Linked DNA regions of Homo sapiens: regions 2 and 3 are each linked to region 1. The links come from fine-mapping of genetic effects on plasma protein levels. A gene starts in region 1. Each other region holds a variant in brackets. All regions are shown on one strand. Distances are between the middles of the regions.

Region 1 (2,767 bases):
ATATATATATATATACTTTTTTTGTAGAGATGGGGTCTCGCTATGTTGCCCAGGCTGGTCTCGAATTCCTGGGCTCAAGTGATCCTCTCATCTCAGTCTCCCAAAGTGCTGGGATGACAGGCTTGAGCCACCACACCAGGCCCATCATCAGTTTTTATATAAAGAAAAAAAAACCTTAAAATTGTTAGGCAAATACTATGACAAATTGTAATATATATTCTTACATTTCAGATTTTTATTTTTTAAACTGTATAAGAATTGATTAATAAATAAAATTTAGTATTAATCTGTCTTTTAAAACCATATATAAAGTTTATCAAATAGCTTATAACTTCTTGCAACTGAATTTTTGTATTCAATGTTATGGCTTTGATACTAGTCCAAGTTGAAATATAGATATCTACTTTATTCGATTTAAATTCTGTTTAGTATTTTATTATATTTTGTTAATCCATTTGTCCCAATTCATATACTTATCTCTCTTTCTGTGAATATTCAGGTTAGTTTTTTCTTCCTAATTTTGCATTCTGATTGGCTTTTATTCCCTGAATTATAAATGACTATTCTATGATGATTCTGGTAAATACTCAATTTCACCACACAATCTTTGACTTCATACTAACAAACAGTTGACTTCAAATGGACAATTTCAATGAAGCCTGACTTCATATTTAGCTCCTTTAAGCTTCCTTAGGCATCAGCTCTCTACAATTCTCACATTGAGAATATGTGTATTTTGTTAGCTCAAACCTTGTTAGACATGTTAAATGTTTAGAAATATAAATTTAACCTACCCCTTGAGGTAGGTCTTGAGAGGTTTGTGAGCCTAAAAAGACATGGAGGAACCACTTATTGCCACAAGCACATTGTTCTAAATTATTTGGAATCAGTTAATTCTTCCCCATCTCCTACCCATGCCTGACACCAAAGAGGAGCCTCTAAATTTACAGGGAATACAAGGAAGTCTACTGTTCTCTGCTCCTCTCTGGGTTATTAGGGCACATGGGAGCCCTCAGTTGTTTTCTGCTGAGCAAGAGCAAAGTCCACCTTGGACTTAGACAGCTTGCCAAATTTTTTGCCAGAAGGGGACCTGAGTTGTGACCACTCCCAGTGTGTGCCGGGAAAAGGCTCGTACTGGTGCCAGAATCTCTTACTGTCAATGCTCCCAAAACTCACCGCTTGCCCCCACCCCTTTTGCTTAAATGACGTGGTTCTTATCTCAGATCCTGATATAAAGCTCCTACAGCTACCTGGCCTGAGAAGCCAACTCAGACTCAGCCAACAGGTAAGTGGGCATTACAGGAGAAGGGCGTCTCTAACATGCACTGTAGATCTAAAATCTTCGGGAAGATACAGCATGAGTTTCTGTCCAAGAGGTTTTAGCTGTAATGAAGCCTCAGTGGGATCCAAAGTTGTTTTTCAGTTACTGAGTCTGTATAATCCCCACTCTCAAGAGAAACATTTGAAGGTGTGGGTGTCTCAGAGGACCTTCCTGGTCTCAGAAATTCTGAGAGGAGGTTTTAAGGAAGGTAATAGGTGCTTTGCTCTCCATCTCTCAGAACCCCCTTCTCTGTGTTCTCCTATAGAGATTGTTGATTTGCCTCTTAAGCAAGAGATTCATTGCAGCTCAGCATGGCTCAGACCAGCTCATACTTCATGCTGATCTCCTGCCTGATGTTTCTGTCTCAGAGCCAAGGTAAGATCTCTTTTCCACCAACCAACTCTTTCTAGCCCTGAAGACTTCACTCTATCCCCAAGCATACGGGTCTACTTGAAAAAAAAAAAAAAAGCAGAGTCACTGTTAAGGGTTGTTTTGTGGTGTTTAGTGATCTTTATTGCTGATCTCTTCACATTTATATACATCCACACCTCATTAAGGAGTTGGAGCTAGAATTTAAAATGACCCCTTATAAGCAACTGCTGCAGTTGGCATGAGTTTATCTGATTAAATTTATACGTGATGGTGGATTTGGGGATGTCTGTGTGTAGACAGTCACTAATGGGGTGGAGAACTGAAGAGAGCCTTGTGTTCAGGGAAACCAAGTCAGGCTTGAGAAAGTAGAAGGCTGAGTCCTTCAAGGTAGAAGAGCCTGAGCTCCAGACATAAAAGGGAAACTGGAGACTTGTTTCTTTGGCCTATTCATTCTGTTTTTTTTCCCCTGATCAAAGAAACCAAAGACAGAAGATGTAGGATGCAGGAGCAATAGTGAGCAGTCATCCCATAATAGACTGGATTCTTCTGTTTCTATAAAGGAACCTCAGAAGCTCTTACCTCACCTTCAAGCCTTTTCCTTACCCTGAGAGCCTCCTTTAATTGTCTCTTCTTTTTCAGGCCAAGAGGCCCAGACAGAGTTGCCCCAGGCCCGGATCAGCTGCCCAGAAGGCACCAATGCCTATCGCTCCTACTGCTACTACTTTAATGAAGACCGTGAGACCTGGGTTGATGCAGATGTGAGTGAGGAGAGCAGTGTGGGAAGGGAGACTCATGAAGGGAGGGGAAGCTGCCACTCTCCAGTGTGTTCAGTGGCTGCAATGAGATGAGACTGAACCCCTTGCTATACTATCATCAGCCCCAAACTTTCCAATCTACTTTATCCCATTATTCAGCACATTCCCAGCACAAAGAACCTGGTGGTCAGTGACAGCATCATCACGGACATTACTCTGCTGTCCTTTTTCTGACCCGTCCTCTTGGAGGACTCAGTATATCCGTCACAACTTCCTCCTCCACTGAGTGCTCCATTTTCTTCTGCAACAGCTCTATTGC
Region 2 (2,767 bases), 14 kb after region 1:
TTCTCCACCCCCTCCCCCACCTTTTTTTTTTTTTTTTTTTTAGCAAACAGACAGACCTTATCTCTTTCCTTTTCATTTTTTCCAAGATTAGCTACAGCTTCCTCATGTAATATATATCTTGTCCCAGAAGAGGGCTTAAGAGGCATAGGAAAGAACCATAGCAATTCCAGGGGTGGTGGGGACGGGGCAGCTTGCAACAACTTATTATTATTATATATATATATATATTTTTGCCTATGGTAAACACGGCCTTATTTGGTCCTGCAAATTGCTGGGCATAGATGGCCTGAGCATGACCAACTCCTTTAAATTGGTCCTTGTTTCCTCCAGAGTTCACCTTACCAGAGTTTGACCCGGAAAGTCCCCTTCATTTGGCCAAGCCTCTGTCACAGCCAGGATAATCTGGTCTATAAGACTGTGCTTGCTCTCAGCAGTTCCAGCACTATGCAATGCTGTCTCAAAGCAGATTGGGTGGTTACAGTACTCATTGTATCAGCTTCACTTTCTGCTAAGGAAATGCCATTCACGCTAGGTTTTCTTCGCTGCATCATCCATGTGGCTCAGCTTTCTATTGGCTGCTCTTTGAAAGTTTTTGCTATGTTCAATAATTCTGCCAAGGTGTAATTTTGGACATTGAAGTTTTCCTGAAAAGGTTGTCCATTACCAGCTGGCTGCAGGCGTTGGGCTTTTGTTTTCCATTGCATGAGAGGTCTTGCTCTCAAAAGGGAAGGATAATTATCCTCCTCCTCCTGAGGTATGTCTTCATCTCACTCACTATTTGGTTCCTAAGGACAACAAGTCTTAGCGTTCCAGTCCAATTTAGGAAGAACAGCTTGCACTTTTGGCCAACACAGCTCTCTCCCATCTAACCATATAAAGCAGCAGGCTAGGGGTTCCAGGTGAGTATCCTGAGTTTTGAGCTTATCTGCCAGACTAGATGCAAACATGGACGTGGAGGTCCACATATCCTTTTCTAATGGTAATTCTTCCTCTAGTCTTAGTACCTTCATCTTAGCTGCTAACTACACTTCTGTGGCCATTCCCACAATCCGTAACAGTGGCCAACCCTCTGTCTCAGCCACCTGGTGAACTTCCTTACCCCAGTGAGCTGTAAGATGTTCTACTAACAAGCATTCTAGACCCTCCAGCATTTTCAGGGCATCTCTGTACTCACAT[G/C]ATGGTCCACAGGCATCTAGCAAGTAGCCAACACCACCCCACATAGATGAGGGGAGCCTGCCAGGATTTCCTCCACGTATGTTTCCTGCCTTTTGCCCAAACTTTGGTTCCTGGACCCCTATTGACTGACTCCCCAGTTGTTTCATAAATGACCATATATGCAAAGCAACCACCAAACACGAAAGGAGCCAAGAAACTAAAGACTGAGGCAGAAGAGTCCAGTTTGTCAGTAAAGGGTGATTTGCTGGGGAACATACAGACAGAAGTGTGGTCTTGGCGGCCACCGACAGGGAGATCTCCACACTGTTACTCCCTGGCCCCAGGGCTTATGTACCGCAGGGAAAGAGTGCACGTGCTCTATACAGACAATTAGAGGCAACCCTTCCAAACAGACAAGAATGCTATGTTCACTATAGCCTATCATTTGTGCAAAGACCTCAAGATTGTTTTTTTCTAAAGGCAAGATTTCTAGTAAGTATATGTTCTTACCCTAAGGACAGTAAATAATGTAGGAATCAGGAAGCATTCCCACGACTGGGGCTAATCAAAAGTCAACATGGCAGATTAGCACCCAAGATGGAGTCACTTTCATCTCCACAGTGTCTGTGAATCTAAGTCAATTTATTCATAGCTCATAAATAGATTTTGTTGTTGTTTTAATTCAGACTAACAATATGTGCCTTTTGATTGCATTGTTTTATTAAATCCCAGGTAATAGTATTATTGATGCTGTTGGTGTTATGGGCTGAATGGTGTTCCCACAAAATTAATTCATTAAAGTCCTAACATCAGTACTTCAGAATTTGACTGTATATGAAGATAGGATTATTAAATAACTATGCCTGAGTATTTTATTAATCTAATTTATTATTCATTTAGCCGTTCATTCCAGGAGTGCCATTTAACCAACATTGCTGGCCACCAAGCCTCTAGTCATTCCAACACCAATGCATTCAACACTGTAGACCTGACAATTCTCAAATTATCACTTCAGTCATAGCTTCAACTTGTATAACAAAGCACAGATGTGCCTTCCTCAGGTCACAGGTATGTGAACCTCTTTAGAGTACCAAACACTCCAGTCACTTGTAAATCAACAGTAATAATTTCTCTGACACTGGGTCCATGGAAATATGTGGGTGGTGAGTGAAATCCTTATCTTCTTAACATTGTCATAAGCAAGGCCACCATATGTTCATAAACCCTTGAGTCCAACATGCATGATATGTGGACAAAGTTTTTAAAAGTGAATGGGCCGAAGCAACTTCTAGAGTGCTACAATCACTGCCATCCCAACTACCCAGGCATTAGGTGGGGAAATAGCAGACACAGAAGACAGCACTATGGGGGAAACATGTTTATTTTTATTGTTTAGGGCTCCAGAAATTGAGGTAGGTAAAGATACTAAAGATCAGTCATGCAAATTTAGCAGAGGAGAGATGGTCCAGATTGATATGGAGAGAGATGGTCCAGTTTAATTCTTTTACTCCATAGTAACTGGTAGACCAATTCTAGACGTCCATTTTACAATTGCCTCCAGTATTTGAACTTGCAAACAAAGGAGAACTTCTCCTTACAAGAATCATCCTTC
Region 3 (2,767 bases), 16 kb before region 1:
ATACTGTATCAACAATTGACACAGTATTCCCATAAAAATCTTTATTGCTACCAGTATCTGGAAACACATTGAGATGTTATTAACTTTATTGCTTGCACATGTGACTGGCCAAATTCCGCGTGCAAGCTAATAAAACTGATACCTTTACCTGGCAGCTACTTTGTTCCAAAGTGATGCCTTTTGCATATAAACTGTATTTCCTATCTGTTCAAGGTTTATCTCATTGTCCTCCAGAAAACAAGGCCCTTCCTGTGACATAGTTTTACAAGATTCCAAGAAGCTCATTTCAGGTCTTTCCCATCATATTCCCTCCAGCAGTCTTCTTGTATATGGAAAGCAGTCTCCTGGAAATCTAGTGTTAATATGTCCTTAAGTGGGGAAACTTTCTGATAAGCCTCCAATAACGCCAAGAAAATTCCAAGGCTATGGCTGATTCTAGGTGCTGTTTGCCATTTTCCAAGAGGTATTCTCTGCTTTCCACCTTTGGAATTGAGATTTTAGACATATGAGAGAGAGATAATCTCCCACTTGTTTAAATCCTTGGCAGGCATGTAAATAATAGCCTGTCTGCAAACTTTAGACTGGAAAAGAAAGGAGCTGAACAAATAACAAATGCAGCAAGGACATTCCATGGTCTGCTGTGTTCTGCAGGTGTAAGGAAACCTACTTATAAGTTAGCCTATTCTGCTTCACAAGAAACCTCTGATTTTTAAACATTAATTTTTGTCACATGCTGTCTATGCCAGGCACAATTCTAAATGCTTGCCTAATTAGAAACCATTTAATCCCCATGAAAACCTAATAATGTAGGTGCTGCTACGAACCATATTTGACACATAAAAAAAATGAAGGCAAGAGAAAGGCTAGGTAACTCCTGCAAGATTAAAACAGCTGCTAACACAGGAATAGAAAACCAAATATTGCATGATCTCACTTAAAAGTGTGAGCCAAACATCAAGTACATATGGACACAAAGAAAGGAACAACAGACACAGGGCCTACTTGAAGATAGAAGGTGGAAGGAAAGTAAGGATTGAAAATCTACCTATCAGATACTATGCATATTACCTGGGTGATGAAACAATCCATACATCAAACTCCTGCAACACACAATTTGCCTGTATAACAAACGTGCACATGTACCCCTGAACCGAAAATAAAATTTTAAAAAACCAAACAGCTACTATGTGTTGGCACTAGATTCAGACATGCAGTTTAGCTCCAGGGCCATTCCCTGAGTTCCCAAAATACTGATTTTCCTCTACTTATTTCCACATGCAACTCATCCAGCTATCTGGATTCTGAATGATTTCAACACATAACCACCCATTGATTATGGTCAAGGACAGAGGCTCCACAAGAAGAGCTTAAAAAGTGAATAAATGTAAGACA[T/TCAAG]CACCCAATTCTTAACCTGCAATTTAATTTGTCTTTTACACACACACTAGCACCACAAACCCGTGTGTGTGTGTGTGTGTGTGTGTGCACGCGTGTGTGTGCTCCTGAAAGGAGGAATTGTTCTTTAGAATCCTCATGGCCTGGTCACCACATAAAAGTCCCACCTCTTAACATTGTTCCAATGGCAATTAAATTTCAACATGAACTTTGGAGAAGACAAACATTCAAACTGCAGCATTCTAGCTGCCTAAAAATCATGTATTTCTCAGGTACAAAATGTTTCATTTCATCCCAAAAGCCCCAAAAGTCTTAGCTCATTATAGTATCCTCTTAAAAGTCTAAGGTCCAGATTATCATCTAAATATAATCAAAATCAGATACGTGTGAAAGTCAAGTATGATTCATTCTGAGGCACATGTTTCTCCAGCTGTGAAATCAAGTAAGTTATGTACTTCCACAATATAGTGATGGGACAGGCACAGGATGGACAGCCTCATTCCAAAAGAGAGAAATGGAAAATAAAAATAAATAATAAGTCTGTAATAAGTCTGTAATAAGCCCAATTCCCACCAAAGCAAATAACATTAAATCTTGAGGTTTGAGAATAATCGTCTTTGGCTCCAAGTCAAACCTTCTCTACATATTGGGGTGAGGGTTGGGCCCCCATGATTTTGCTGGATGCATCCCAGGAAGTAGCTATCAGAGGTTAGAGTCTCTTTTATGCAGCCCTCTACAGGTGGCATCTCACACTGCTGGATCTACAGTTAGGGTTTTGAAGAAAACCCACTCCCCAAAGTTCTACTAGTAATTGCCCTAGTGGACAAACTCTGTGGTGACCCTGTCCTTGTGTCAATTATTTGAGCCCCGAGTCTCTCTGAGGCATCTTTTGAAATCTATAATAGGCAAGGCTACAAAATTAGCAACCAGTGGGCACTGCCAAGATTTACATCCTGCACCTTCTGGAATGGTGGATGTAGCCACAAGTGAGATCCTTTTTTTTTTTTTTTTTTAATTATACTTTAAGTTTTAGGGTACATGTGCACAATGTGCAGGTTAGTTACATATGTATACATGTGCCATGCTGGTGCGCTGCACCCACTAACTCGTCATCTAGCATTAGGTATATCTCCCAATGCTATCCCTCCCCACTCCCCCCACCCCACAACAGGCCCCAGAGTGTGATGTTCCCCTTCCTGTGTCCATGTGATCTCATTGTTCAGTTCCCACCTATGAGTGAGAATATGTGGTGTTTGGTTTTTTGTTCTTGCGATAGTTTACTGAGAATGATGATTTCCAATTTCATCCATGTCCCTACAAAGGACATGAACTCATCATTTTTTATGGCTGCATAGTATTCCATGGTGTATATGTGCCA

Which allele goes with the higher level. Positions count from the first base shown, and alleles are read on the strand shown. Strength reflects both the effect of a copy and how common the allele is.
For the plasma level of the protein whose gene starts at base 1,259 in region 1, C is the high allele of the variant in region 2 and G is the other (moderate association).
For the plasma level of the protein whose gene starts at base 1,259 in region 1, allele T in region 3 goes with a lower level than allele TCAAG (weak association).

What was found. A credible set is the group of variants that fine-mapping cannot tell apart. PIP is the chance, under the fine-mapping model, that this variant and not a neighbour inherited with it causes the effect. The UK Biobank Pharma Proteomics Project read protein levels with antibody pairs (Olink). The fine-mapping took linkage between variants from a reference panel, not from the people measured, so its PIPs are less certain.
Region 2: its variant is the best candidate, but not a certain one, in a credible set for the plasma level of the REG1A protein (UK Biobank, PIP 0.60).
Region 3: its variant is the best candidate, but not a certain one, in a credible set for the plasma level of the REG1A protein (UK Biobank, PIP 0.51).

The regions. Positions count from the first base shown.
Region 1 is chr2:79,119,230-79,121,996 of GRCh38, forward strand. It overlaps REG1A (regenerating family member 1 alpha), which reads left to right and starts at 1,259. Exons shown (of 6, transcript NM_002909.5): 1 at 1,259-1,285; 2 at 1,587-1,696; 3 at 2,333-2,451; 4 at 2,759-2,767. The coding sequence starts at 1,633.
Region 2 is chr2:79,132,984-79,135,750 of GRCh38, forward strand. It overlaps the pseudogene REG1CP. Among named protein-coding and RNA genes, the nearest start is that of REG1A, 14 kb to the left of the region's middle. The variant G/C (reference allele first, on the strand shown) is at 1,177.
Region 3 is chr2:79,103,304-79,106,070 of GRCh38, forward strand. No RefSeq gene overlaps it. Among named protein-coding and RNA genes, the nearest start is that of REG1A, 16 kb to the right of the region's middle. The variant T/TCAAG (reference allele first, on the strand shown) is at 1,393.